Linked DNA regions of Homo sapiens: region 1 is linked to region 2. The links come from fine-mapping of genetic effects on gene expression. A gene starts in region 2. The other region holds a variant in brackets. All regions are shown on one strand. Distances are between the middles of the regions.

Region 1 (2,901 bases), 82 kb before region 2:
ATTCCTCGCAGGATCTAAATGTGGCGTTACCACCATCCCCGTGGTTTGTCCTTCCTCCATGTAGTTTGTCTATGTCCCTCTTGTAGGAAGGCTCCTCAAATAGAAGCAATGCCCCAGGTGGAGCCTTGCAAGCCGAGGCCAAGAGAACTATTTTCTCCCTCCTCCTCCACACTGTTCCTCCACTAAGAGTACAATCACTTTTCGGAATAGCTAGTCCCACAGCTGACTCTTAGCAGAGCCTAGATCTCTATGCAGAGACACTTCAAAATTCTTCACCAGGTCTGCCTGGCCTACAATCCACGCATGAGGTCCCGCCTGCAGAGCACCTCGCTTCCACAAATCACTCCTAGAGAGCTGGCTCCCTTTCTCACTAACTCCTCCAAGGGAGGAGACTCTACAAAGCTTTTCATATGCAGGAGCTGAAGGAACATTGCTAAATCCTTCCAGCTACACTTGTGGACTTTTTAATTTTGTCCCAGCGGGAAGTAAAGCTTAAGCTATTTGCTGTTTCTCAAAATGTATCCTTCAGTTATTTCAATTTTTCAGTGGTCCCATTTCCTTAGGGCATCTTGATCCAGACCTCCCCAAGTCCTTCCTGCTACTCTCTGTTGCTCAGTCAGGATCATCTCTGAGAGCCTGGCACCGTGTAGAAGTGCATAGGCAGTGCTGGAGGTGATGGGGGTGCGGCTCACCCAGCTTGGCTCAGCTGTAACATAGCAAAAAATCACCCTACAGGGATCCATGCATGGAGTGCAAGACCCACAAGCAGGGATGGACAGGCTGGTACCCTTTTAGCAGCTCAAATCTCAAAACAGCCTAAATCAACCATGATTCATCCAGAAAATGGAACACCAAGCAGATGTTCCAAAGTCCAGGAGACATGCAGATTGCAGATGCTGACAGAGTGAGATCTCCAAGGGAGGGAAGTAAGAGGAAGGCAGCAGGGAAAGAGGCAGATGCTGTGGATGCTCACAGCACAGATGCTCCTGGGTCCCCCAGAAAAGCTCCAGGAGGACGCATAGGAAGCAGGTCCCCCTGGCCACTCCAGGGAGGAGAACTGGGGCCAGTGGCAGAGCCTGACTCTATTCCCTTCTGAAGGGTTATAATTTGTAAGCATGTATACTTTTAAAAATGACAAATGGCCCCTGGAGCAGGGCTGTGCTGCCACCCCTGCCCAGTCCGCAGGCCCAGGGCTGCCACACTCCTTTACAGATCACCCTAGTCCACACCAGACTGAGCTCTCTCCCCTCTCCACTGAGCTGGCTGCTGGAACCAAACAGCCTGCCCCTGCATTTTGGCCCCGGGTCTGTCATCTGACTTCTACTCAGGCTGGCTGCCCCTGTGCGGGGAGCCTGGGCCCATCTCCACTCATGGCACACTCCTCATCTCTTCTCAACATGACTGGAGGGAGTCCAGTGACCAGCCTGTGCCACGGCGCCCCTGCATGACGTAAGGACGCCACCCCGTCTCTCGGCTGTGTCTACATCGACCAGTGGTGGTCTGAGTGGGACAGTGGCTTGAATGGCCTCTGAGTTCTTCCAGCTCAGATCCACTGTGATTTGGTGCTTTGACCCTGTCTCCATCCTCCATTCCTTAAGCAAAGGTGTGCAGTGTGTGACATTGGCCTTCATCCCCCACCTTTCTCAGCAAGGCCCCTCTTCGCTTCCCTGGCCACTTCCATTTCTGCATACAGGCTTCCCAGAGCTTTGCTCTTAGCTGGCTCCATCTACAGGCTGCCTGACCAAGTGCCTCCCAGTTG[T/C]CGTGGTTCCCAGAATGATTACGGAACACCCACAACTCTGTGGCAGATGCCTCTACCAATGTTTTCTCCCCAAACCCTCACAGCAACCCTTGGGGAGGTGCGGACCATCACTCCTGCTTTGCAGGTAGGAAAATGAGAGGCTCAGAGAGGTTGACTTGCTCAAACTAGTGACATTTTAACCAGGGCTCCTGGAAGACCTGGAAAGTCTCCAAGACCGGAGATGAAGGTAAATGCTATCATATCAGGCACCGGAGCAGGGAGCAGGAAGGACTGAGGCACTTTTGGGATTTCCCCTCAAATCTTACCCCAGTCCATGCCTTAAAGGTCATCCCAGTGGCACACCCAATGTCTCTTCCCTCTGTCACACACTCCCTTCACCCGCGTGTACCCACGGGGGATCCCCAAACCCCAGCACAGAATCTCAGCCCTCTCAACACTAGCCATGTTTTAAGACACCCTGGTCTCCAGGGCTCCTGAAGGAGACAGGCCGGTCGAGGGGGCCAGAAGGTACCAGAAGGGCAGCAAGTGAGTCCAAATGTTGAGAGTCTCATTGGTCATTTGGAAAAGGCTGAGGATGCAGGCAGTGGCAGAACTCTGTGGATGGCGGTAGCCGAACAGGATGCCTTGCTCATGGAACACCTGCAGAGGCAAAGGAAAAGGACACTGAGGTGAGACCAGAGGGTGGCACGAAGGTCTCTGGAGAAACATCTTCCAGGCCGTGCTCTGTGTGCCTGGAACGCTTGACCCCAAGTCCTTAACCTGTTAAGCTGTTCCCCTCACTCTCTCCTTCCCTCGCAGTAGCTTCTAAAATCCCTTGTCCTCCAAGAAGCCTCCAGCTAGCTGGGGGAGGGAATTCAAGGGCCAGGCTCCCTTTGGGAATCCAGCCTGTCTTTGCATTCCCCGGCGTACTTACTCTTGGCATGAATCTTGCCTAAGAATCCGTTTTCTCACCCCTCTGCCTGGGGCCTACAGCCCAGTTTTTGGACGCCTTTTTGGTGAGCTGACACAGATGCTGTCTGTCTGAGCTGGCAAGCCCTGCATGTCAGGGGCTGGTGGGAAGAACTCTGCAGAAGATGCCCCCGGTGCCAGGATATATTCACCAAGGTGCTTCATAAAGGGCTTTTGATGATGAGGACCACGAT
Region 2 (2,874 bases):
TGGGGAGTGGGGTAAAAGAAACAAACCTCTGCTGAGTCAAGGGCACTGCAAGAATGCAGAAGCGACCATGCAGCTCTGGAAGGATGCGGTGGGAAACCCGCCACTCAGTGGTGGAGAAAAGCCCACCAGTTTCTCCAGCAAATGGCTGAGCTTTGTTGGGCCTCCTTGTCTTCTCATCTGCCCATGTGTTAATATCTACTCGCCATTGGTTTGTTAGGTTCAAATGAAATCAGGGATGTGTCCCTTTTTGGCTGCTAGCTCTTCTCAGATCCCCTGACCTCTCCCCATCTCTTCTCTATGGCTCTGCGTGGGAAGGGGCAGTTGTCACCCCCGACTCCCACTAAGCTGAGCCCTCCTCCCAACCTAAGCGGGAGGAAGCCGGTTCTGCTCACGGATAAGAGTTACCGGGCTCCTGAGTTCTTGTTCTGCTGGGCCGGGGTCCACCCCCTCTCCTGGGCTCATCCGACTAGGACTTGGGAAGTGCTAGGGGAGCCAGGAGATGCCCAGCTGGGGGCTGTGGCCGGGGGGAGGCCAATGACAGAGCAGGGGGAACTCCCTGTAGCTGGGCACCCACTTCAACAGGGCCGGGACGACCCCCGCAGGCAGTGGGCCGCCCCTCACCCACACGGTCCTGCTCAGCCCAGGCTCACATCTGGGCTCAGGAGGCGGGAAGCACAGGTGTAAAGAAATCGCCAACTGTGCAGCCCCAATCCAAGGGTTTTATTAAAGTGGGGGCGGCGGGAGGGGGGCGGTGGAGGAAGGATAAGCGGCGCAAACGCCCTGGAGAGTGAGAGAAAAGGTGCGAGAAGGCAACAGCTCCCCTCACCGCCCTCGATTGCAGCAGAGAGCCTTCTGCACGGCGGCGGCCGCCCCACCTTCACACCGGCCCCGCGTGCGGTGAAAGTGGCCGAGCCGCGCCGCCGCCGGATCAGGGCCGCCCCGGCACAAACTTTCCCAGACCCGCCCTCGGAGCGGCCACCCAGGCTCAACGGGCTCCACGGGCGCAGGGCGGCTGGGGCTGCCGCGGAGGGCGGGTGCGCGTGGACCGGGAGGTGGGGAGGCGGCGCGCGGCGGGGAGTCCCGCCCCGGGTTACCTGGGTTCCAAGGGTCTCGGGAGTCCAGTGGACAGGGCGCGGGGACAGCACAGGCAGGCCGGAGACCAGACACTCCTCCCGGGCTGCGGCGACCCCGGACTCGCGGGCCCTGCACCTGGCCCTGCGGGTCGCCGCGCCTACCCATGCCGGTCCCCGCCCGTCCCCTCCCGCGCGGGGCGGGGCGGCCCCGGGGGAGGAGCCGAGGGCCGTGGGCACCACCCCCTGAGCCAGGCCTGCGCCTCATCACGTGCCACCGACCCTGGGCTCTGTGACTTCCAAAGACTCGCCACCCCATTCCACAGCCTGAGGTGCCACCAAAGCCATAAGCCCAGGGGAGTCTCTCACACCCCATTCTCCTAGGGCCCATGTACCCCACGCCCACCTCCACCCCAGGAGCCGAAGGCCGGCAGGGAGCCTGGAGAGCCTCCTTGATGGGAGAACTGCGGAGCTTGCCCCTCGGAAAAGTGCATGGGGTGGAGAACAGGGAAGGAGAAAAAAACAACAACTGGGTACTCGCAGCCCCACCGCGGTGTCCGCTTCGCCGGTGGGAGAGGATCCTCGCCGCCCTGAATCCTTGAAGTGAGTTCCACCCCTGTCTCTTGGAGTGCTCAGGGTGGCGGGCCCTTTGCCAGCCCTCACCCTTTCCCCAGGGATCCTGTCCCAGGTCACAGGCTCCTAGACTGGAAGGCGCTGGGCCTGGACCTCTGCCACTCAGTGGACACAGCTATAAGAGATGAAGGGACACAGAGGACAAAGAAGAAACATTTGGCTTCAGGGAACCAGACTCTGTGTCTCCTCCCAGGTGCTGAAGGAACAGGTTGCAGCTACCTGGTGCCCCCACCCCGACCCTGCCAGAGAAAGGTTGGAACATCCACACCTGTGGACCGAAGTCCCCCACCAGGCTCTTTCCTCCCACCCTTCAGCCCCAGGCTCTCTGAGCTCCTGCTCCTCCCTGCCTTGCCTTGTTTGCTGAGGGCACACACAGTGGAGAGAGCACAGGACTGGGAGTCCAGAGACCTGGGCTCTAGTCTACTCTGTGACTCGGGTCAAGTCTCTGGCCCTTTGTGGGCCCAAGTTGCCCCATTTGCAGTGAATAGGTTGCAGTCAATTATCTCCGGCCATTTTTACGGATCCTGAACCGTGGTCTTGGGCACCTTGCTTTATTAGGCTTTTTGGTGGCTGTGCATCTTGTAAGGGTGTGTATGCATGTGCGTGTGTGTGTGCGTGCGACATGCGCTTGTCCTCTCAGACCCAAGTTCTTAAAGGGAAAGAGACTGGGGCCTACACAGAGGCAGGCATGTATATTCCACAGACCAGAGTTTGACAAGAATGACTGGACACAAGAGTGGAGCCCAGTCCCAGCTCTATGCTGAATTCAGAGTAGCCTTGGACAAGACCCTCACCATCTACAAAATGGAGATTAATAATCCCTGCTTTGCCTTTCCAAGGCTAGTCGGGGGACTCAGTGAGATATTAGATATGAAGCTCTTTGAAGGGGAATAGCACAGGGATGTGTGCTTTTGATGTCTGGGCCAGTGATGGGTTTGGGGGAAGAATAGGGTGTGAAGCATTCTCTGGGAGGCAAAGGCTGGCACTGGACTGATTGGCCACCCTGCCAAAGCTGCAGCATGCACAGCACAGGCAGGCACCCCACCACCAGCAGCCAAGGTGAGCAGAGATGCCTGGTGCCCCACCTGGATTCCTGCCTGCTGTAGGTATCTGTGTGTGCACCTTGAAGAAACTAAAGAGGGAAGATAAAGAGGCTCCCAACCTAAATGGA

Direction of the effects. Positions count from the first base shown, and alleles are read on the strand shown. Sizes are in standard deviations (SD) of each study's normalised expression.
With allele C in place of T in region 1, the expression in testis of the gene that starts at base 1,239 in region 2 is higher (large effect, 1.2 SD a copy in GTEx).

Evidence for each region. PIP is the estimated chance that this variant, and not a neighbour inherited with it, causes the effect.
Region 1: its variant is the best candidate, but not a certain one, in a credible set for the expression of PAQR5 in testis (GTEx, PIP 0.88).

Annotation. Positions count from the first base shown.
Region 1 is chr15:69,379,380-69,382,280 of GRCh38, reverse strand. It overlaps PAQR5 (progestin and adipoQ receptor family member 5), which reads right to left. Exons shown (of 9, transcript NM_017705.4): 4 at 2,271-2,398. Among named protein-coding and RNA genes, the nearest start is that of KIF23, 34 kb to the left of the region's middle. RefSeq lists a silencer at 611-792. The variant T/C (reference allele first, on the strand shown) is at 1,760.
Region 2 is chr15:69,297,277-69,300,150 of GRCh38, reverse strand. It overlaps PAQR5 (progestin and adipoQ receptor family member 5), which reads right to left and starts at 1,239. Exons shown (of 9, transcript NM_017705.4): 1 at 1,095-1,239. It overlaps PAQR5-DT (PAQR5 divergent transcript), which reads left to right and starts at 1,388. Exons shown (of 3, transcript NR_184010.1): 1 at 1,388-1,673.